Linked DNA regions of Homo sapiens. The protein of the gene in region 2 purifies or fractionates together with the protein of the main gene of each other region. This does not show direct contact. Each region holds a gene or a part of one and is shown on either strand. Other genes may lie near its edges. The genes, in order: KCTD3, PCMT1, KLHL24, SHKBP1, RAB3IP, DERA and PDPR.

What was found.
Region 1: the proteins of PCMT1 (region 2) and KCTD3 purify together in Homo sapiens (affinity purification with mass spectrometry; 3 studies listed by BioGRID and IntAct, with this or other methods). This does not show direct contact.
Region 3: the proteins of PCMT1 (region 2) and KLHL24 purify together in Homo sapiens (affinity purification with mass spectrometry; 3 studies listed by BioGRID and IntAct, with this or other methods). This does not show direct contact.
Region 4: the proteins of PCMT1 (region 2) and SHKBP1 purify together in Homo sapiens (affinity purification with mass spectrometry; 3 studies listed by BioGRID and IntAct, with this or other methods). This does not show direct contact.
Region 5: the proteins of PCMT1 (region 2) and RAB3IP purify together in Homo sapiens (affinity purification with mass spectrometry; 3 studies listed by BioGRID and IntAct, with this or other methods). This does not show direct contact.
Region 6: the proteins of PCMT1 (region 2) and DERA purify together in Homo sapiens (affinity purification with mass spectrometry; 3 studies listed by BioGRID and IntAct, with this or other methods). This does not show direct contact.
Region 7: the proteins of PCMT1 (region 2) and PDPR purify together in Homo sapiens (affinity purification with mass spectrometry; 3 studies listed by BioGRID and IntAct, with this or other methods). This does not show direct contact.

The regions. Positions count from the first base shown.
Region 1 is NC_000001.11:215,573,804-215,577,303, reverse strand, and holds part of KCTD3 (BTB/POZ domain-containing protein KCTD3), read right to left. Parts: coding exon 3,465-3,500; intron 3,238-3,464; exon of another isoform or gene 3,232-3,237; coding exon 3,186-3,231; intron 1,404-3,185; coding exon 1,330-1,403; intron 1-1,329. UniProt on the Homo sapiens protein: Accessory subunit of potassium/sodium hyperpolarization-activated cyclic nucleotide-gated channel 3 (HCN3) up-regulating its cell-surface expression and current density without affecting its voltage dependence and kinetics.
Region 2 is NC_000006.12:149,791,241-149,794,740, reverse strand, and holds part of PCMT1 (protein-L-isoaspartate(D-aspartate) O-methyltransferase), read right to left. Parts: intron 1,193-3,500; coding exon 1,072-1,192; intron 1-1,071. UniProt on the Homo sapiens protein: Initiates the repair of damaged proteins by catalyzing methyl esterification of L-isoaspartyl and D-aspartyl residues produced by spontaneous isomerization and racemization of L-aspartyl and L-asparaginyl residues in aging peptides and proteins.
Region 3 is NC_000003.12:183,670,123-183,673,622, reverse strand, and holds part of KLHL24 (kelch-like protein 24), read right to left. Parts: intron 2,590-3,500; coding exon 2,401-2,589; intron 1,328-2,400; coding exon 1,139-1,327; intron 1-1,138. UniProt on the Homo sapiens protein: Necessary to maintain the balance between intermediate filament stability and degradation, a process that is essential for skin integrity.
Region 4 is NC_000019.10:40,589,385-40,591,897, reverse strand, and holds the end of SHKBP1 (SH3KBP1-binding protein 1), read right to left. Parts: intron 1,655-2,513; coding exon 1,476-1,654; intron 1,169-1,475; coding exon 1,045-1,168; intron 923-1,044; coding exon 691-922; 3' UTR 501-690; downstream 1-500.
Region 5 is NC_000012.12:69,821,280-69,823,699, reverse strand, and holds the end of RAB3IP (rab-3A-interacting protein isoform alpha 1), read right to left. Parts: 3' UTR 501-2,420; downstream 1-500. UniProt on the Homo sapiens protein: Guanine nucleotide exchange factor (GEF) which may activate RAB8A and RAB8B. Promotes the exchange of GDP to GTP, converting inactive GDP-bound Rab proteins into their active GTP-bound form.
Region 6 is NC_000012.12:15,909,886-15,914,131, reverse strand, and holds the start of DERA (deoxyribose-phosphate aldolase), read right to left. Parts: upstream 2,801-4,246; 5' UTR 2,749-2,800; coding exon 2,718-2,748; exon of another isoform or gene 1-2,717. UniProt on the Homo sapiens protein: Catalyzes a reversible aldol reaction between acetaldehyde and D-glyceraldehyde 3-phosphate to generate 2-deoxy-D-ribose 5-phosphate. Participates in stress granule (SG) assembly.
Region 7 is NC_000016.10:70,152,332-70,155,831, forward strand, and holds part of PDPR (pyruvate dehydrogenase phosphatase regulatory subunit, mitochondrial isoform 1 precursor), read left to right. Parts: intron 1-1,059; coding exon 1,060-1,242; intron 1,243-3,500. UniProt on the Homo sapiens protein: Decreases the sensitivity of PDP1 to magnesium ions, and this inhibition is reversed by the polyamine spermine.

The DNA.
Region 1 (3,500 bases), on a different chromosome or scaffold from region 2:
TATTTCTATACATATCTATCTTAATCTCCCCAATTACACTATAAATTCCCTGCGAGCATGATCTATTTCTGATCTATGTTTGTATACCTCACAGTGCCTAGCATAGTGCTTGTATAAAATAGTTATGTAATAAATATTTGTTGAACAAATAAAATAGAAAAAAAAAAAAGACTAGCCTTGGGAAGGGCTATGTTATCCAGATGAAATGATGCTACTTCATAGTAGTAAAGTTAAGTAACATGAAATAAAATTTTTAAAAAATGGAAGATTCAGAACTTATAATACTAATAATTCATCTTAGGTTTCAGTTGTAATTTGTCCTTATTTTAAAAATATTCCCCAGCCTTGATAAATATATACAATTACTATGTTAAATTGTTTTTATTTGTGAAACTGGTTATGACTAGTTTAACATTAAAAATGCTTAAAACTTTGTGTCTGGGGGCGGTGGCTCACACCTGTAATCCCAGCACTTTGGGAGGCCAAGGCGGGTGGATTACGAGGTGAGGAGATGGAGACCATCATGACTAAAACGGTGAAACCCCATCTCTACTAAAAATACAAAAAAATTAGCCGGGTGTGGTGGCGGGTGCCTGTAGTCCCAGCTACTTGGGAGGCTAAGGCAGGAGAATGGCGTGAACCCGGGAGGTGGAGATTGCAGTGAGTCTGGGTGACAGAGTAAGACTCAGTCTCAAAAAAAAAAAGCTTCAAACTTTCTTATTCTATTTCGAAACTATTTGTGTTAACAGTACAGCAGTACTGGCCAGAGGCATGATCATAACTCACTGCAGCCTCAAACTCCCGGCCTCAAGGGATCCTCCTGCCTCAGCTTCTTCTCTAGAGTAGCTGGGATTATAGGCGTGTACCACCACATCCAGTTTCAGTGTGAGGAAACTTTTAATCAAAGTCTTAGTAAAAAAAAAAAAACCTTTTCTGGCTGGGCGTAGTGGCTCATTCCTGTAATCCCTGCACTTTGGGAGGCTAAGGCGGGGAGACTGCCTGAGCTCAGGCGTTTGCAATCAGCCTGGGCAACACAGTGAAACCCCTTCTCTACTAAAATACAAAAAATCAGCCGGGCATGGTGGCATGTGCCTACAGTCCCAGCTACTCGGGAGGCTGAGGCAGGAGAATTGTTTGAACCTGAAAGGCGGAGGTTGCAGTGAGCAGAGATCATGCCACTGCACTCCTGCACTCCAGCCTGGGCAACAGAGCAAGACTGCAACTCAAGGAAAAAAAAAAACAAACAAAAAAAACCTTTTATTTCATAAAACATATTAAAAACACATATTTATCAGTAAGAATTTACTTTAAAAAGAGTGCATTTCTTACCTTAAGTCTAGTTCTTTTGTCCGAAGAAAATTTAAAATGGGTGCAAATGCTGCTGGATCTCTATCAATAAATATCTGTAAAAAAGAGAACAGTTTTATTTTCAAATTACAAATTAATCTTTTAACTTTAATATCTGTAACACTAATAGGGAATGAAGTCTTAATTACTTAAATACTACATTTCCTTGTTTCCACTCTTAAACTTTAATGTTTCTAAAATTGGAATGTAGTCTGTGTGCATTTCATGAGATGGTGTCTTTTTCTTGAGATGGTGTCTTTTTCTTCCTCTGAATAGTTATTATTAAACTGATATTTTAATACATAGAAAAAATCTTGTCTAATAAAATCACTTGTATTGATACCTTTGGTAAAAGTGACACCTGAGGAAACATTTTTATCTGAAACAGTCTAGAATTCAATTAATACTTCGAAAACATGAATAAATAATACTTTCTTATACTGTTCAATCATTAAAACTACAATGTACTTTAATAATGCACACAGGGGTACTTGAGAAAAGTAAATACTGCACACTGCTGTCAAAAGTGGAAAAGAATACTATTCTCATAATACTTTTACTAATCTCAATTTCCTTCAGAGCTGGGGAAAGGTAATGACAATTTTTTTTTTTTAAACTAAAGCACCACAGAATACATAAGAGGAAAACAAATTGCTTAAAAATGTAAAATACATAATTGGTAACTTTTGTTTGTTTGTTTGTTTTGAGACAGCATCCTGCTCTCTCATCTAGGCTGGAGTGCAGTGGCACGATCTGGGCTCACTGCAACCTCCACCTCCTAAGTTCAAGCAATTCTCCTGCCTCAGCCTCCTGAGTAGCTGGGATTAGAGGCACCTGCCACTATGCCGGGTTAATTTTTCTGTTTTTAGTAGAGAGGGGGTTTCACCATGTTGGCCATGCTGGTCTTGAACTTCTGACCTCAGGTAATCCACTTGCCTCGACCTCCTAAAGTGCTGGAATTACAGGCATAAGCCACCCCACCCAGCCCATAATTGATAACTTTTTATGGAAATTTATACCAACACCTATTTTGAATCATTTACAAAAGATCTGGCCATAAAAACGGAACATCTTTTAAAGCTTATGTAAATCAATTAGAAAGGGAAATGGCAGCCAGTAATAAAACTCTTCCTACTATGATCAACTATATATATACAATCAATGAGATTCTTCTAAGCTTTATAAATTTTCTTTTGTTTTCATTAGAGCACATCAAAAATCGAAGAGACATCACAGATTTGTGGAGATCTTATTATTGATAACTTTTTATAATTTCACATGGACATATCTGCATTTGTTGCCTTATTTCATCTGCAAATCTCACCACAGCAAATAAATACCATTGGTCACTTTGTTGCCTCCAAATGGATAAACCAATTTTTTTGCACTGAAACTTTACAATTCTTTCCTTCCCTCACTGTACCAATGCTGTATAAACAAATTCGCAAGGTTATTCTCCAAAATAAAATAAAAAACTGTAGGAGTTTACTAATTTAACCTCTTATATTCTAATATAAAAATATTAGAATATTTACATTTATCCACTTACTGTTAAAGTTTCAATTATTGATCTAAAAAAATTTCTTCTAATGCCAATGTAAGCTCATATCCTACAATCTCTCTAATCATGAATACTTAAATTGCCATATATAGTATTCCCTACTTAGGGATCTTCTCTGATTATAAAAAACTACATATGACAAGAAATAAAATTATGCCACTTTCATTCAGTGATTATTAAAATATCAGTTCTCCTATATTCTTAGAGTAACTATATGTTAGGACCAAGCACTATAAGCATTAATTTAGGAATATGTATCAATTATTATTATACTCACAGCACCAGTTTCATCTCGAAGTGTTGAAATTCTCCCACTCAGCAAACTGGAAGTCATTAATAATCTAAAGTTAGTTTTTAAAATCTGAGTATAAACAAATGTGCTAATTCTTTACCAAATGTTAAAGACCACTAAAAGTAAGTTATCTATCTTCCAAGTTCAAAAATATATAATTTTAAGAGTTAACCTTTTTTATTAAAAAAAATTTAACTGACAAACATTATTATATTTTGGTAAATAAATGTATTAAAATATACACTAAAGAATTATAAGACATACCTGGAAAAAAAAGAATCTGGAATCCACATAAGAGTT
Region 2 (3,500 bases):
CACAGGATCAGGGCAAAGGCCAAGGCAAGCAACACCTCCACTTCCTCCTCAGCCAGATCCCTCTAGGGGATGGCTGTGGCTACTAGAGCTGCCCGGGCCTTTATTTTATTTTATTTGTTTTTTTGAGACGGACTCTAGCTCTGTCGCCAGACTGTAGTTCAGTGGTGCGATCTCAGCTTACTGCAACCTCCACCTCTCGGGTTCAAGCGATTCTCCTGCCTCAGCCTCCCGAGTAGCTAGGACTACAGGCGTGCGCCACCACGCCCAGCTTATTTTTGTATTTTTAGTAGAGACGGAGTTTCACCATGTTGGTCAGGCTGGTCTCAAACTCTTGACCTCATGATCTGCCCACCTCAGCCTCCCAAAGTGCTGGGATTACAGGTGTGAGCCACCGCTCCTGGCCAATATTTTATCTTTTAAACAAAACTGAGTGTGTCTGGGGAATACAACTGGATATTCATACACAAAAACATATAACTGCACCTTTACCTCACACATACACAAAAACCAACATCAGGAAGATCAAAAACCTAAACATGAAAAGCTAAAAATGATAAAGGTTCTAAGAAATAATAAGAGACATATCTTCATGGTCTCAGAGTATCCTTAAAAAGGACACAGAAAGCACTGAAAAAAATTGGTAAGTCTGACTACATTAAAATTAAGAATTTCTATTATCAAAAGGGTACCAATAAGATGAAAAGGCACACCTCAGATGGGAGAAGAAATGTATTTATATATATAGACAAAGGGCTAGAAGCCCTGTAAGTCAAAAATACAAGCAATCCAATATCTGAACAGGTACTTCACAAAAGACAAAATCCTAATGGTCAGACACATTACAAAAAATTCAATCTCAGAGGTTAATAGGAAAATACAAAATTAAACTCACAAAGAGATGGCTGCAAAATACACACTAGGTGAGCAAAAATAATCGTTTTTATTTTTTAGTACTTAAAAGTGATTGTAAAAAAAAATACAATAATTACCTCTGAGTATTATTTAGCTTGCATTGGATCTTCTGAAAATAAAAATCCTCTGAAGAAATTTTTAAAGTTTTCTGATACTTACCAACAAGCTGTACTCTCCCTGAAGACAGAAGTGTTGGATCGTCCTTCCTGACATTATTTACTGAGTCATCTACTAGCTCTTTAATGTGATCAATTCCTATGACTTTTCCAGTACATCCAACCTGGAAAAGAGAAAACAATTCAGTAGCTCATTGGGCTAAATTTGTTTTTCTAAAGTATTATTGAAGTTTTTCCTTATCGAAAGTCATATTCTACAAAGAGAAAACAAAAATAGCTTAAGGCTTCTATAGATTGCTAAACACTCAGTTTATCATAAATTATTTACCATATATACAACTTTCTCAACTATCACTCTCATTGAATAAAACTTGTAATACTAAGAAAAATTATATCTTTCTTAGATTAAATCTAGAACTTTGAAGAAAATTACCAATATTTAATAGTAGTACAATAATTTTTTATTTAAATTCCATCTAAAGTATAACTTTAAATATTAAAATGTTACATAAAGAATTTGACAGGGAGGAATTTCTTTTTTTTTTTTTTTGAGAGAGAGTCTCGCTCTGTCACCCAGGCTGGAGTACAGTGGCACGATCTCAGCTCACTGCAACCTCTGCCTCCCAGGTTCAAGCAATTCTCCTGCCTCAGCCTCCTGAGTAGCTGGGACTACAGGCCCCCGCCACCATGCCCAGCTAATTTTTTTGTATTTTTAGTAGAGACAGGGTTTCACCACGTTGGTCAGGCTGGTCTCAAATTCCTGACCTCGTGATCTGCCCGCCTTGGCCTCCCAGAGTGCTGGGATTACAGGACTGAGCCACCACACACCCTGCCTCCCGCCTGATGGGAAGGAATTTCTACACTTGTTTCTACTGCTTTTAGTAGAAAACATGAAAATATATACAGTGGCTCACACCTATAATCCCAGCACTTTGGGAGGCAGAGGCAGGTAGACTGCTTGAGCCCAGGAGTTTGAGACCAGCCTGAGCAACATGGCAAAACCCCATCTCTACAAAAGAATACAAAAACTAGCCAGGTGTGGTAGCATGTGCCTCCTAAGTCCCAGCTACTTAGGAGGCTGATGTGGTGTGAGGATCACTTGAGCCTGGGAGGCAGAGGCTGCAGTGAGTTGAGATCGTGCCACTGCACTCCAGCCTGGATGACAGACTGAGACCCTGTCTCAGAAAACAAACAAAAAGCAACAACAACAAAAATCCCTTCTTTGCATATTTATTTGTAAATTAAAATATTAAGTATAAATGTTTCAAGAAAAAATATAAAAATTTAAAAAATTAACACATAAAGGCTTTGAAGTCAAACTATCTGGGTTCTTGTCTAAGTGTCATCACTTACATACATACATACCTTGGCAAGTTAACCGTTCCTTCTTTTTTTTTTGAGATAAAGTCTCGCTTTGTTGGCCAGGCTGGAGTACAGTGGCGTGATCTCAGCTCACTGCAACCTCTGTCTCCCGGGCTCAAGCAATTCTCCTGCCTCAGCCTCCCAAATAGCTGGGATTACAGGCGTGTGCCACCACACCCAGCTAATTTTTGTATTTTTAGTGGAGACGGGGTTTCACCATGTTGGCCAGGCTGGTCTCGAACTCCAGACCTCAGGTGATCCACCTGCCTCGGCCTCCCAAAGTGCTGGGATTACAGGCGTGAGCCACCACACCCGGCCTATCATTCCTTGTATGAATCAGGTTCCTCAGTACAAAATGGGGAGGAAAAAGGCATAAACCCCATCATAAAAATGGGGTAGCACTTAGAACACAGGCTCTAGTGCTTAAAACACAAAGTACTTTCACACATGGTAAATGTGTGAAAAACATTAATGCCATTTTATGAAAAACAACTCAGAAACCAAATGATTTTTTAAAATGAATACATCCTCTAAAACTATAAACATGTCAAGTATAGAGAATGAGTCATTTATTAAATGGCATTTCTAACCTTAAAAAAAATCACTGATATCCATTAATGAGGACTTAACCTCTACAAAATGAGCAAAACATCTGAGAAAATATGAGTCCTTATTATGTGCCAGGCATTGTTTTAGATGTTTAGGATACCATCATGATAAAAAAGAGCAGACAAAATTTCCAACTCCCTGGAGCTTACATTCTAGTAAGTCTGCTGATTATACATTTATAGCAAGTTACATGGATTCTAGTCCAAGGTGGATCCACAACTCCCAATTTAACTAGATCAGAATATTCCAATCTGTCCTCCAGGCACGATATTTCTCAAATCAAACTGATGTGATGATCTAAGCAATGATCAACCTTTACTCCAACATATATTAGTGGGTCCCCAGTTAATACTCTGGATAGCCATTGACCAGATAAGACTCTGATGAGAAAAGGCAGAAGTATAACAAGGCATTATTTTTCTAAGAGCACTTTTTCTAATGCAGAAGTTTTACCTTCATCCTGGTAAATCTGCAGGAATGTTTAGAAACCAGGCTCATTCT
Region 3 (3,500 bases), on a different chromosome or scaffold from region 2:
GGGGAAAAGGCCTTTTGGGAGGTGGCAGTGTGGGTAGGGAGTAGGGCTCCGGTTAGAATACATGGATGAAAGAAAGGTGAGCACAGCCATTTCCTTTACAACAGAAATAACAGATTTCCCAGCCTCTAACCAAAGAAACAACAAGTTTGGGAACATTCCTCTCTTCTGAAATATGAAAGAGAGGGGATAAATACTGGAGTAGGATTGTGAAAAAAGTCAAGAGAAAAAAAAAAGAACAGCCCAAGTGTAACAGATACTTCTCCATGGGATGGTAAAAAGGAAGTTATTTCAATAAAATGACCCCTTGGAAGGAGTTCAAAACAGGTTGCCATATGCTTTATGTGGAGTTTTGAAAAATATATAAAATAATTCAAGCAAACATGAAATATTTTATTTTACTTATTTATTTACTTTTTTGAGACGGAGTCTCACTCTGTTGCCCAGGCTGGAGTGCAAGTGGCATGATCTCGGCTCACTGCAACCTCTGCCTCCCAGATTCAAGTGATTCTCCCGCCTCAACCTCCTGAGCAGCTGGGATTACAGGCGTGTGCCACCAAACCCAGCTAATTTTTTATTTTATTTTGTTTTATTTTATTTTATTTTATTTTTATTTATTTATTTATTTTTGAGACGGAGTTTCGCTCTTGCTGTCCAGGCTGGAGTGCAATGGCTCGATCTCGGCTCACCGCGACCTCCACCTCCCGGGTTCAAGCAATTCTCCTGCCGCAGCCTCCCTAGTAGCTGGGATTACAGGCAATGCGCCACCACGCCCAGCTAATTTTGTATTTTTAGCAGAGACGGGGTTTCTCCATGTTGGTCAGGCTGGTCTCGAACTCCCGACCTCAGGTGATTGGCCTGCCTCAGCCTCCCAAAGTGCTGGGATTACAGGCATGAACCACCACGCCTGGCCATAATTTTTTAGTAGAGACGGGGTTTCACCATATTAGCCAGGCTGGTCTTGAACTCCTGACCTCAAGTGATCTATCCACCTCGGCCTCCCAAAGTGCTGGGATTACAGGCGTGAGCCACCACGCCCAGCCTGAAATATTTTAAAATTGAAATTCCAGTGTATTAATAATGATTATGTACTTGGTCCCTCTTAGATTTATTTTTCTTTTGTACTGCTTTATGTTATTACCTGACGGCTGAATGTATTCTGTACGTGCATCCAGTAATCTTCAACTGGATCGTAACAGTATATTGCCTTGGTCAGTCCACCGGCAACATAGATCAGGTTGTTTAGGGATACAGCTGTTATACACCTTTTGGCAATTGGGATAGCTGCACGAAGTAGCCAAGAATTGGTTTCTGGATCATAAGATTGAACCTAATAACATATAAAAATATATAATTAAAATTTCTAAACAAAAATGGAAATGTACTTAATAAAGAATCTACCAATACCTACAAACATTATTTAAAATAAAATCCTATTAATTCAGAGAATTAAGAGAGGTTAGCCTGATAGTGAAATGTCTGAATTACGAACATTCTCAAATAAAATGCAAATTTATTACTATCAAGCAGAATAGAGTACCAAACACACAGATTGTTTCTAGAATGAATGGCCACCAGGTTTGTCCACTAAAATTAACAGTCTAAATCTTTTCACAATTGTGTTATGTAGGATAACTATGCCTCACATCTGAATATAACTTCTTAATGCTTTTAGGGAGTCCTTTCTTCAAAAGAAAACAAGTAAACCTCAATTCAATCAGTATGCTCTGAATTATCACAAATTCTGAAATAACAAATTCTAAATAAGTAACATTTGATCACATTATTTTAAACTGAATTTAGAAAAAGAATTAATAGACTGACAAAATTCAGTTAACAGTGCTAAACCAGCTAGGCATTAGATGCTTTTTTCCAGAATAAACATTTCCTGAGATGTCAGGATAGCACATATTCTTTCGTCCCAGAAGTTTACTGAACCGGAACAACTTTGAGCCATCCTCTATTTACACTAAGGAGGTTTCCTTTCCTTTTTTCTGAAAAATACTTCAAAAGTATGTAGAAAATGACCCAGTTGGAAGCAGCATATTTAGTTACTATGTCTTACCCTTTGCTAATTCACTTCTCAACTGTGTTTTGTATAAATAGTTTTTAGATTTTGTAGATGACAGCAAAGGCTCAGAACAATTTATTTAGTAGAAAACTTCTACACAGATAGTCTCATTTCAAAAAGATTGGATCACATTTGTTAGAGCAAATTGTTAGATATACTAGAGTCTCACTTTAGCAACCCAGAATTCAATGTTTTTCTCCAAAAGCATATAGTACCAGAAAATTTTTAAAAGACCCCTCACACTATGTGACCTGGCTACCTACTTGATAAGCCTTCTGTATTTCCCTTCTTGTACTTAATATTGGTAATTTCTTTAAAAGTGCATGGCTTACCTTATCAGAACAAGTATTATCATCAGGTCCTCCACCAATCACAAACAGTTTGCCTACACAGCTAGTCACTGCAGGAGAACTCACGGCTTCCTTAAGGGGAGCAACTTCAGTCCATCGATTTGAAAAGGAATCATAACATTCTACGCTGCTAAGTCTGTTTTGCCCATCATAGCCACCGACAACATATACCTATATGTAAAATACATGGAAAAATCTTAATTATCAAAAGTCTGAATTTTGAAGTAGTTGGCTAAAGAATTAAGGGATCTCTTCTCTTTAAAATGCCCTTGCTAAATAAATATAATTGCAATATATTTAGCTCAGAGTTTCTGAACCTTTTAAAAAATCATCATCCCCTACCACCATCACAATCCACGGAGCCTTTTTAGGTATTTTCTTCCTAATAGTCTTCCCTCAATAAAATTGTAATACCACAGAGAAATTGTGTATCTATTTACCTTAATGTATGTATATCTGTTCTTTACACAAGAAAGGGTACATTTTTTTTCATCTTCTAAGAAACAATCTTTGCCCCCTTGGGGGTAATACTGCTCACACTGAGAATGGTACAATTTAGCTTAAATATTCACACTTATGGGTAATGAAATATTTGATTATTATAAAGTATTAGAGCTGTGAAACTAAAATATTAGGAAAGAATTACTAGACTATGAGAGTGCTGGTCAGGCCTTTCTTTTAGTCCGTACAATACCTAGAAAAGTACTTGACACAAAATGAACTTTAAAGTTCACAGAGCTTTTATGTACATTTTCTTTTCACAAATAAGAGAAAGGTAGGGCAAATTAGTATCTTTATATGACAGGTGAACCAATCAGTAAGATATTTATTAAATGGCTTATATGCAAAAAATCCATGGTTTATATAGGGAACTTTCAACCTAACAAAGCTCTCCAGCAGCTTAACATCCACGTTTCTCTCTCTCTCTTTTTCTTTTTTTGGAGATGGGTCTCATTCTGTTGCTCAGGCTGGAGTGCAGTGGCATGATCACAGCTCACTACAGCCTCAACCTCCGAGGTTCAAGTAATCCTCTCACCTCAGCCTCCCAAGTAGCTGAAACCACAGGTGTGTATCACCACACC
Region 4 (2,513 bases), on a different chromosome or scaffold from region 2:
GATATTCTGAATTAGTGTTTGAAGCCCCGGATCCAGCCATGCCTGAAGGCAGAGTAAAAGCCAACACATTCCTCCCCTGCAACACCTTTTTTGTTTTGTTTTGTTTTTGAGACAGGATCTCACTCTGTCACTCAGGCTGGAGTGCAGTGGTGTGATCATGGCTCACTGTAGCCTTGGCCTCCTAGGCTCAAGCGATCCTCCCACCTCAGCCTCCCAAGAAGCTGGGACCACAGGCATGCACCACCATGCCTGCTTAATTTTTGTATTTTTTTGTAGAGATGGGGTTTTGTTATGTTGCCCAGGCTAGTCTGAAACTTCTGAGCACAAGCAAACTGGCCTCCCAAAGTGCCAGGATTATAGATGTGAGCCACCATGCCTGGCCTCCCTTTGCTTAAACAAGAGAGGTAGATGTTCCTGATTTTGCATATATCGGGTTGGGTCCCACATCTTCCCCACCCCTTTCCTGGGGAGTCCCAAACCTGCTAAGAATAAGCAAGATGTTGGCAGTGAGGACTTTATTGGGGAGGGTGACTTTGGCTTCCAGAAAAGAGGGAAGGTGGGGACCTAGTAACAATAACCATTTATTCCAAGGAGGCCCTGGCCCTGAACCCGGGGTTCCCACAGGAATCAGGGAGGCACCTGAGTCCCCCAGGACCAGGGCATCCCAAGGCATCATGGCAGCTGCGTTGTTCAAAAGGAAGTTTCATTGAGCTTCATCTTGGGAGGTGTGAGGGGAGTGCCGAGACCGCTGGAGGGCCACGGGGCTGGTGTGGGTGGCCGTCGGAGGTCTGGCCCACTCCGCACCAGTTCCTGGCAGCGTTCCACAAAGCTGCCCCCACCACGGCGCCGGGCCTCAGCCTGCGGGGGGCTTGGGCTCCCACGGTGGCCAGACAAGGAGGTGTTGCTGGAGGCTGAGTGGAGGCTGAGGAAGTAAGGACAGTAAGTGCACGTCATCACGGGGCAGCTGGGCCACTCTGTCCCCGGGAACACCATGCTGTCCCCTCTCCCCTCATTGCACAGAAGGGGCAGTGGAGTTGTGGCTACCTGGTGAGGGAGATGCGGGGTGAGGGGCTGGGGAGACAGCCCCATGAGGGAGCTGAAGGAGCCGGCGGGGCCAGCTCACAGTGTTCCAGCTGTTCCATCAGCTCTTGCTCCGTCAGGCCACCTGCTGGGGGGCACGGAAGCAGGGTCAGGGGGCAAGACAGGGGTCATAGGGCAAGGGCCTGGGTTGCATTGCAGTGCAAGCACCGAGGGTCAGGACAGGAGAGAGGAAGCAGAGATCAATGCATGGGGGCCAGAGGCTGAGACAGGGGTTGAAAAACAAGGGCAGGAAGGGATGGGGAGCAGAGAGGGGGTCAAAGGAAAAGGGGTCAGAGGGCAAGGGCCTGGGAGAGAGATCAAGCAGTTGGCAGTGGAGAGTGGTTCTGGGTGAGGCTGTGGGGCTTGGGACGGGATTGGGGTGGGGCAGGGAGTACCAGGGGCCTGGCCGAGGCCGTCCATGGCGGTGGTTAGGTCCCACATGGCCAAGCTGCCGTTGGCCTGGCCAGTGAGCAGGTAGCGCCGGGGCCGAGAGCCGAGCCGCCGGGAGCCCTCGCACTCCAGCACTGTGAAGGCTGTCGTGGGTGAGCCGTCCACGGAGCGCACGGAGCACACCCTGGGGGGTGCAGTGGGGGAGGTGGTCACCCTCGCTTTCTCACCCTTCCTCGTCCCAGTCCCCACCACTGTGGCTGCAGTTCCTGCCTCTCCAGGGGCCATCCCAATCTTTATCCATCCCTAGCCTGCTTTTGAGTTCCAGTCCCAAGGGTCCAGCAGCTCTTGGACACCGCAGCCCCAAACACCCAGGGAGTCTCCCAGAGCTTCTGCTCTTCCCTGCTCCCACTGCAGGGAAGACCTGAGGCCCGTCCCAGCTGCTCCCCCACCTCCTATCAGCCTCCTGGCCTCCTCCCTGGGCTCCTGGCCTCCCATCAAGCCTCCTTTCATCCCCCATGCAGTGGCCACGGCTCCCCGCACAGGACAAAGCCTCAGCCCTTCCACAGCCTGACAAGGCCCGCCCGCATCTGCACCCCATCCTCACCTCCTGTTCTGTGCTCCAGCCCAGGAGCCCACGTGTCCTTCCCATGTGACCCTATTTGGCCCTTCTCAGCCTCTGCACATACAGTTCCCTCAGGCTGGGGCCCCCTTCCCCTGCCTTCTTTCTTCTGCTCCTTCCTACTTGTCCTCTAGGTCTCTGCTCAGAGTCCCTTCATCCAGAACATCCTCCGAGGCCCCTTTCCCAGCTGAAGCAAGGCTCCTACAGCTCCCTGGGTCTCCTCCATCCCATCCCGACCCCTGCCCCTGGTCCCCCTATCCCACCCCAACCCCTCCCCCTGGTCCCCCCATCCCACCCCGACCTCTCCCCCTGGGCCCCCATCCCACCCCTCCCCCTCCGCCTGGGCCCCCCATCCCACCCTGACCCCACCCCCTGTGCCTTCAACCTGGCCCTGCCTGCACTGGGCTGGCACTGCGCCAGGTCA
Region 5 (2,420 bases), on a different chromosome or scaffold from region 2:
ATTTGTGCTCTTCATGATTTTGACTTTTTTCTATAGTCCAGGCTCATTGCCTTGTAGAATACCCATTTTCCAAATTTGTCTATTGTTTCATTATTAGAATTGTAGGTGACATAATTCCAAACATATTTTACACACATATACTGTTACTTGAAAATGAGCAAACTAAGTTTAGCTTAGAAAAGAAAAGGTTTAGGAGCTTCTTTTGACGGTCACACTGGCTGTCAGATCTATAAGGACAAGTCATCAAGTTGTTTAAAGAAATGAATTTTCAACAATTGTGTGAAGCTATCTGCTGGGTGCAGGAAATAAAAAAATGAATAAATAATAGTCCCTGCCCTCCATAAACTGAAATCTAGGGCATGAGAAAAACACAAGTGACTGTAACTCAGGGCAGACTGATAGCTGGGAAAATGTCTCAAGAGAACAGAGAAAGGACAGTAATTTAATCTGGGAGGATCTGGAAAGGTGCCACAAAGAGCTAGGATGTAGATACACTTAAACAGTGGGTGGGTCTTTTTTTTATTTTTTTAATTAACAAATAATAATTGCCCATATTCATGGGGTACACAATGATATTTCCATACATATAATGTGTAGTGATCAGATCAGGGTAATTAGCATATCCATCATCTCAAACACTTATCATTTCTTTATGTTGGAAACATTCAACAACTTCCTTCCAGCTATTAGCTATTTGAAACTACACATTATTGTTAACTACAGTCATCCTACAGTGGTACAGGATATATTAAACAATAAGTATATTTCTTAAAACATGAGCAATGGCTTGGAAGACAGCACAGGTACAGAGATTGTGTGCCTAGTATGGTGCGAGAGGAGATAGGAAAATAGGCTGAAGAAAGATGGTGGTAGTTTATTTCCAATTTTTATGGATACATAATAGTTGTACATATTTATGGGGTACATATGATATTTTGATACAAACATACAACGTATAATGATCAAATCAGGGTAATTGGGGTATCCATCACCTCAAACATTTATCATTTGTGTTGAGAACATTCCAAATCCACTCCTTTATTGTGAAATATACAATAAATTATTAACTGTATTTACCCTATTGTGCTACCAAACAACAGATCATATTCCTTCTATAGATTTTTACACCCATTACCCAACCCCTTTATCCTCCCACCCCCCAACCCCCATTACCCTTCCCAGCCTCTGCTATCCTGTTGTATTCACTACCTATAGTGGTAGATTCTGAATGTAATTTGATTCCATGCATATTCATTCTAAGTGTATCTATTGACAGTTTCTATCTGCTTGGGTGTGGGGCATGATACAATCCCATTTAACTCAGAGAGATCTCTGTGGCAGAATGTGTTGGCTGGGGCAATATCCAAAGTTTAAGCAGTTTAAGAAGCTACTGCAAAATCCAGGTAGGCTGTAGTAAAGCCTGAAGCACGCGATGTAAAACAAAGCAATGGTTACTGGCTGGATGTAGGGAGCAAGGATGAAGTCAAATGATTTTTTTTAAGGATTTATATGCCTTTAGATAAAATATGAATTAAGATGCCTAAAACATGTAGCCTCTGGCTAACCCTAGACTCCAAGAGAAGCTCCCAGCCAAGTCTCCTGGAGACCACCGGAAATGAGTCATCACACTATAATCCACTGCCAAGTAATGATTCTGGATCCCGTCCACCAATTCACCCACAGACTTCATGTTCTCAGCAGCACAGTGATGTGACAGGAAGCATCATAGAAATGAGATTTCATTTAATGGCCTGAGAAGCTAAGGTTAGAATTGGGGTTCCGAACTGAAATACTTCCAAGGCCCAGCAGATAAGTGAGTAAAGTGGGTCCCTTAGCCTTGGTGTCAGGGAGACAATCCAGGATGGTGGGCCATAGAGCAAACCATGGAGTGCATACCCTGAGCAAGGGTGTAGCCACCCGACAGGTGGAGTCACTCAGCTCCACCCAAGTGTTGTCATTCAAGACTGTGGGCTCAGTGTTGTCGAAACGGCACATTTTAAAAAAGAGCAGCTTGAAATGCAGATTTTAGATTTCCTCATTTTTAAATGCTGGCAATTGTTCAAAAACAAGATGGACAAACAGAAAAATAAACCAAAACACTGTGAAGGACAAATAGCACATTGTGTGAAAACACAATGGAGCCCACAAGATGCAACCCTGGTGCCGAGATCTGCGGAAAGTGAAGAGAATTGAGAAGGAAGTTGCTGGGAGGACTAGAAAATCTCTATTAATCAGAATCCAGAGCACTCCACTGAGAGCACAATCCAGCTGCTGGAAATAGGATTTAAGTGGAAATTCCTCCCTCTCAGTGAATAACAAATATGATGCGTATTTTCCTGATTATGGTCTTTACGTCTTACATTTTCCAACTCTCTTGATATCCCCATTTTGCAGAGTTTCGGTAGAGAATCATTCTCTTG
Region 6 (4,246 bases), on a different chromosome or scaffold from region 2:
CAGGACTATAGGCATGAGCCACCATGCCCAGCCTCAAGACATTTTTGAGGGCCTTCTGTGTACCAAACACTATTCTAGGTACTTGGGACACATCAGTGAACAAAAGAAAGATCACTACCCACGTGACACCTGCATTTTAGGCAATAGTTAAGTGGCATCTAATAAAATAGAAGAATATCTGTACATTTTAATAGACTATATAGGGCATAATAGTCTAGGTACAAAACTTGATAGTACCTTGGAGATCATTAAGCCATTGGTTCTCAAACTTGGGTATGCTTCAGTACTACCCACAGGATTTGTTAAAACTCAGAATGCTGGGCCCCATCCTCTAATATGAAAGCTAGAGGGTACATTCCCTATTTGGAAAACATCTTTCATACATCCAAATGCCAATGTTTTCCTTAAAGACTTTTTAATCATGAGGGTCAGGTTTAGTCTCAAAGGAACTCAATGTTTTTTTAAGTCCATGAACTAGAAGTACATACACCAAATCATAAATAACAGTGATTGGACTAGTAATAATATTACAACATTTTTGTGCTAACTGTATTTTCTAGAATTTTTACAATAACCATGAATTCCTTTTGTAATAAGAAAAGGGAAGCAAAAATGTTAATTTATTTTAGAAATTAGTTACGATGTTTATTAAAAAGACTTTCAATTAGAAAACTATTTTAAAAATCATCAGTTAATATACTGCATAAATTAATACTGAAAGATTTTTTTCCCTAGTACCTAATTCAAATAACTTATTTTAGCATTTCAGTTTAAACCTGTTTGGATTAAGGATTAATACCCGTGAAGGAAAAAAATCTGATTTTAACAAATAAGATAATAAATACAAAGCTATGATCATTTCGATAGCTGCATAAAAACCACATTTACTATTGTTCTACCTGGCAATTATTTATGTCTATTACTTTTCAACAAATGAATGGAAGTGATTGATTCTAATTACTGCAAATAAATAAATTTAAAAATGGTTCAATTATGTTTTTTGAAAGAAAAATTTAAAATGTCTAAGTTTTGGGAAATTTAGGGCACATCCTTGATGTATGCATAGTCACATGGTCATATTCCTGGGAATACCCAGGTAAGACACCACCCCAAACCTGCCCCATATCCACCACCTTCAAGGATATTCCAATCTAAGAAATAATGCCGTTATTACTAAAGACCACGTTCCAGAGATAGGACTAGAGTTTAAAACATAATCAGCTAGAGGACAGTGACTAAAACAAAATCAACCAGGTTAGTAAATCAACTGTCTTTAAAATGATAGATTTACTCTCTTACCATTCGACAAAAAATCCAGAACACCTCTTGGAAGTGCAGACTGTTTAAGTACCAGTCACTTTTAAGGAGGGCGAAAAGGACCTACCTGTATGTGTTACATATAATTTACAGCCAATTTTCTCAAAATTAGCCCCTAAAACCATAACTCCATATACTAATACTATCTATACTGAAGACTTACTAGGTGTCCACAATATACCAAACTACTTTACATGTATCCTATTTAATCTCCTAACGGCCTTATAAGGTAACTACCACTAAAATAACCATTTTACAGATGAAGAAACTTAAGCGCAAAGTTATTAATTTGTCCGAAGTCACACAGGTAAGAAGTTAAAGATCCTGGATACACAGATATCCAAGCTATAATACTTAAACGAGACGCTTAAACCTTCTCTTGATCATGGTTTTGCTGTTTGAATTATAAATTTTTCACATGTTAAGAAATCTGAAGAAAAATTCTCTTCTGCCTTGGGATCCTGTTGATCTGTGACCTTATCCCCAACCCTGTGCTCTCTGAAACATGTGCTGTGTCCACTCAGGGTTAAATGGATTAAGGGCGGTGCAAGATGTGCTTTGTTAAACAGATGCTTGAAGGCAGCATGCTCGTTAAGAGTCATCACCACTCCCTAATCTTAAGTACCCAGGGACACAAACACTGCGGAAGGCCGCAGGGTCCTCTGCCTAGGAAAACCAGAGACCTTTGTTCACTTGTTTATCAGCTGACCTTCCCTCCACTACTGTCCTATGACCCTGCCAAATCCCCCTCTGCGAGAAACACCCAAGAATGATCAATAAAAAAAAAAAAAAAAGAAATCTGAACTAAGGTTTCTTGCCAGTATTTGAACAATATAAAAAAAGATGAAAACTGGGAAATAATACAGGTACTTTAACAAATCTTTGTAACTCTAAAATCCCATGAATCTGCAGTGTTACATTTTGAGCACAGACGGCTGACAACTTTTCCACGAGCACGGCCACTTCAAGGTTACGGTTAAAATTATCTACGGAAATACTGCATTAAATTACACAAGTATTCTATTAAAAGGAGGAGAAAGAAGGTTTTTATCTGTTTTTACCTGCTTGGGGGTTGTTTGTTTTGGGTTTTGTTTTTTGGGTTGTTGGGTTTTCCAACCAGCGAGCTAGAGTGAACGAAAAGGCAGGAAGATAATAATCTAACCCTTTCCTACTCCTTCCGCATACAAGAGTAAAAGCTTAGGTGCAAAGACAAGCGGCGCGAACGTGCCGGGTTCGGCCTTTACTTGGGGTGAGGGCTGACCAGACGCCACTGCTTCCCGCCCCAGCGAAAACCCCTCGGGGACCCACAGCCAGGGCACTGGGCGGCAGCAGGCCCCGCGCTAGTCCCGGCGGCGCTGAACGCGAGGGAGAGGGGATGGGGAGCCCCGCGGGCCCCTTACCGAGCTCGGTGCCCCGATTGTGCGCGGACATGGCGCGGGCAGCTCCGGAGCTGCCGGCTGGTAGGCGCCCGCCTCTGCGCCGCGCCCGGCCCTTCCTCCTTCCCGCCAGCTGGAGCGCTCGCCCCGCCCCTGCCCGCTCCCGGGGCGGAGTCGCGGGCCCGGGCTACGAGGTCTGTACCCTAGGAATATTGCTCCGCAAGGAAATCTCGCTGCTCCCCTCCCCCGTCTTCTCCACGAGGTACCGAACCGGAGCGCTAAGTAGCTCCCGGAAATAATGCTACCAACACCCTTTAAAAAATACTGAAGTTGCCAATTGCACGTAATAAAAATATTCCTAGAAACTTTTAACTGTAAGATTATATAACAAGAAGGAAGAAGATCCAAGTGCAGAGCTCTGCAACTTAAGGTCTGAAATGTCAGCAGGGATCCCATATCCTTGTTAGGGAAACCAAGGTGCAATCAAGGGCCCCGGGGCACACTGACTTTTCTAATCTACACATCATGAAAAGAAGCAGCTATGTGGCCTGAAGAAGGCAAGGGCTTAGGAGTCAGAAGACCTGGTTTCTTAGCCAAGCTCGGGCAATAATTAAATGTGTGACCCTGGGCAAATTAACTGCTTTTCCGAGCTTCATTTTTCTCATCTGTAAAAGAAGACCTTGACAATTTCTTGGTTCTTCAAAATACTATGATTCTATAAAGGTAAAATGCTTCAGCCTGATTTCTCTGTGACCAAGAGGTTAAAATCGTCGAGTCACTCCACAATCTCAATATAGTTAACTTATCTGTACTCACGTTTAGAGGCACCTCTGCTATGAAAACAGTACAGTTAGTTATGATTTGTCTACCATGAGCCAGTTATTGTGCTAGGTGCTTTCATACATCATATATAGATGTATGATAGCATTTGAGTCTCTGAACAATCCTGCCAATAATGTATTTTATCTCCATTGCTGTAACTTTAGACATCAAAGTTCTGAATAGAAAGGCATCCTGGTATAGGGGAAATACAGTGAGCTCAAAATGAGCTGAACCCATTAATATACCAGCTCTTCCATTTAATAAATGTAACTTGGCAGTTCTGGAAATAATAGTCTGTCTACTTACCTGTAAAGTGGAGATGATCAAAATATGTTCACCTTGCAAAGCTGTTGAATGTATGCAAGGCACCTAGTACATAACATGGCATACAGTAGATACTTAAAAAATGGAAGCTGTTAATGTTATTGTCAAGTTCACACAGTAATTACTGAGCTGTTTTAAATAGGAATAGTAATATTTGTATACTCCTCTACATTGAGCTTTCAGCCTTGTCCACACACAGCCACTGTTGAATGTTTCGGATGTGTGTAGATCTTACTCATACATACTATAGCACTTTTCTTTTTTATATTAACCTTGAAAAAGAGAAAAGCAGGCCCTGAAAGCCTGGAGCTGGCCTGAAACTCACAACTGGACCATGGTTTTCCCTGGTTAAACGTATACAATTTCACAGCACAGCATCAGCCAAGGCCATTGTGACCACAATGAAT
Region 7 (3,500 bases), on a different chromosome or scaffold from region 2:
AACATGGCGAAACCTCGTCTCTACTAAAAATACAAAAATTAGCTGGGTGTGGCGGCAGCCACCTATAGTACCAGCTACTCGGGAGGCTGAGGCAGGAGATTCACTTGAACCCGGGAGTGGAGATGGCAGTGAGCCGAGATCGCGCCACTTCACTCTAGCCTGGGCAAAAGAGCAAAACTCTGTCTCAAAAATAAATAAGTAAATAAAGTTGTCTTGATCATAGTGGTCTGTTTGGTAGATGCCTGTTCAGCTACAGTGGTGCAGTTCATAGAAACATACTGTGCTAGGATAAAGAACTGCAGTACCACTGAAGCTGGTTCTTTGCTACGTCTTGCTTTGGATTTCATTTTACAGTTTTAAAAGCAAACAGTGTAGTCTCATTTTTGTTGGACTTTAAACTTAACAGCGTATGTTCAGACAGGGATTGAATATTTGCTTTCAGTTTGGAAAACCTTCTGTTCACTGATCTGATAACGTACATGTTTCTGAAACCAAGAAAAGAGCAGCTTGAGAGCCTGAATGCTGTGGGACATGAGCAGGCGAGCCCTGCCTTCCTGGCTCCCCCGCCGTCATCCGATGTGTGCACACGTCTCGAGTAACGTGTGAGAGCTGGGCCTCACAGCTTGGGCCAGTACGTGAGGGAGTAACAGTGGTTGGGAAATTGGAGCAAAAGAACAAAGCCAGAATCAGATGAAGACCATGGAGGGTTGGTGGGCTGTTTTAGAAATGATGATGAGATTGGCCATTTACCAAATGGTGAGAGAGCTTCTATAAATTATTATTTAAGAATTGCTGTAAGCTAGAATCACCACACAAGACATTTTAGAGAGGTGAAAAGACATGGATCCTGTTGTCATGGAGCTTAAGTCCAGGCTGGGGTGACCCCAGCTCATCACTCCTGGGCTGTGCCCTGAGCGTGTCAAGGATGAGACATCCTGGGAGTTTTATACGCCTCCTCTCTTGTCCATGTTAATAGTGTGAGCCATCAGCGCTTCCAGACATGCTCCATGCTTAATTCTGAAGGTCTGCTGCTTATGAACTTTCTGTCTCTTCCTATAGTACGCCCTGCATGTATACAATGAAGTGATGAGTGTTGGCCAGAAATACGGAATCCGGAATGCTGGGTATTACGCTCTTCGCAGTCTCCGAATTGAGAAGTTTTTTGCCTTCTGGGGTCAGGATATAAATAACCTCACCACGCCCCTGGAATGTGGACGAGAGTCTCGGGTGAAATTAGAGAAGGTACTGTGTTTACCCAGACTCCACTTTCACTCAGCATCCCGAGTAGTGAATCTGCACTAGACTAGGAAGAAGAACTGATGTGACAGGAAAAGGGGGAAAAGATTGAGGCCTTGATGTTAGCATCAGGTAAATGAGGACAAGAGTGCCCTGAGAATGAAAACTTTATAGGATAAAATATCTTCAAATGAAAACATAATAATGGTGGCTCACGCCTGAATCCCAGCACTTTGGGAGGCTGAGGCGGGTGGATCACCTGAGGTCAGGAGTTCGAGACCAGCCTGGCCAACATGGCAAAACCCGTCTCTACTAAAAATACAAAAAGTAGGCCGGGCACGGTGGCTCACACCTGTAATCCCAACACTTTGGGAGGCCAAGGCGGGCGGATCACAAGTTCAGGAGATCGAGATCATCCTAGCTAACACAGTGAAACCCCGTCTCTACTAAAAATACAAAAAATTAGCCGGGTGTGGTTGCGGGCGCCTATAGTCAGGAGAATGGCGTGAACCCAGGAGGCAGAGGTTGCAGTGAGCCGAGATCACGCCACTGCACTCCAGCCTGGGCGACAGAGCGAGACTCCGTCTCAAAAAAAAAAAAATTTACAAAAAGTAGCTGGGCGTGGTGGCCAGCACCTGTAGTTCCAGCTACTCGGGAGGCTGAGGCAGGAGAATCACTTGAACCTAACAGGCAGAGGTTGCAGTGAGCCAAAATCGCACCACTGCACTCCAGCCTGTGTGACAGGGCAAGACTCCGTCTCAGAAAAAAGAAAACATAGTAAATAGATGACACTTGGTCAGGTGCGGTGGCTCACAACTGTAATCCTAGCACTTTGGGAGGCCAAGGCAGGAGGATCACTTGAGCTCAGCCTGGGCAATACAGCAAGACCTTGTCTCTGAATTACAATTGAAAAACAAACAAAAAAACCCACTTATTTCTAGTGTTCTGCTGTCTAAAAGACTGAGTGCTTTCTGGGAAGCTATTCTGAGTTAATTATGGTGATGCATTAACATGCCACGAATATTTGTACAAACTAGTCGTCCTATAGTCAGCTGCCTAATTTTTGTGGTTTTTTTCTTTTGTTTTTGATTTTGAGGTGGGGTCTCATTCTGTCACCCAGGTTGGAGTGCAGTGGCGCGATGTTGGCTCACTGCAATGCCCTCTCATGCTCAAGTGATCCTCCCACTTCAGCCTCCCAAGTGGCTGGGACCACAGATGCACAACCATGCCCAGCTAATTTTTTTGTATTTTGGTAAAGACAGAGTTTCACCACATTGGCCAGGGTGGTCTCGAACTCCTGAGCTCAGGTGATCCGCCCTCCTCGGCCTCCCAGAGTGCTGGGATTACAGGCGTGAGACAGCACACCCGGCCTAATTTTTTTGGTTTTTTTGTTTTGGGCGGATCACCTGAGTTCACAAGTTCGAGACCAGCCCGGCCAACATGGTGAAACCCCGTATCTGCTAAAAATATAAAAATTAGCTGGGCATGGTGGCAGGCACCTGTAATCCCAGCTACTCGGTAGGCTGAGGCAGGAGAATTGCCTGAACCTGGGAGGCAGAGGTTGCAGTGAGCCGAGATCATACCATTGTACTCCCACCTGGGTGACAGAGCAAGGCTCCATCTCCAAAAAAAAAAAAGGTAATAACCCATTTTGGAAAATATAAAGAAGGAAATTAAAATCACCCATATTTTGTCTATTTAATGGTAGTAACTATTTTTTTTTTCTTTCTTGAGACGGAGTTTCGTTCTTGTTGTCCAGGCTGGAGTGCAGTGGCGCGATCTCAGCTCACTGCAATCTCTGCCTCCTGGCTTCAAGCGATTCTCCTGCCTCAGTCTCCCGAGTAGCTGTAAGCCATCCAGCTAATTTTGTATTTTTTGTCTTTACCAAAATACAAAAAATTAGGTGGGTGTGGTGGCGCATCTGTGGGCCCAGCTACTTGGGAGGCTGAAGTGGGAGAATCACTTGAGCATGAGAAGGCATTTTTGTATTTTTTCTTTTTTTAGTAGAGATGGGGTTTCTCCAGGTTGGTCAGGCTGGTCTCGAACTCCTGACCTCAGGAGATCCCCCCGCCTTAGCCTCCCAAAGTGCTGGGATTACAGGCGTGAGCCACCGTGCCTGGCCATAATCACCGTTAATAGTTTATTCTAGTCTTATTTGTTGTACATATGTGTATATATGTGTGTATGCATTGAATATAGATGTGCATGGTCTTGTTGGGATTATATAAAAAAGTCTTTTTTTTTTTTTTTTTGAGACAGAGTTT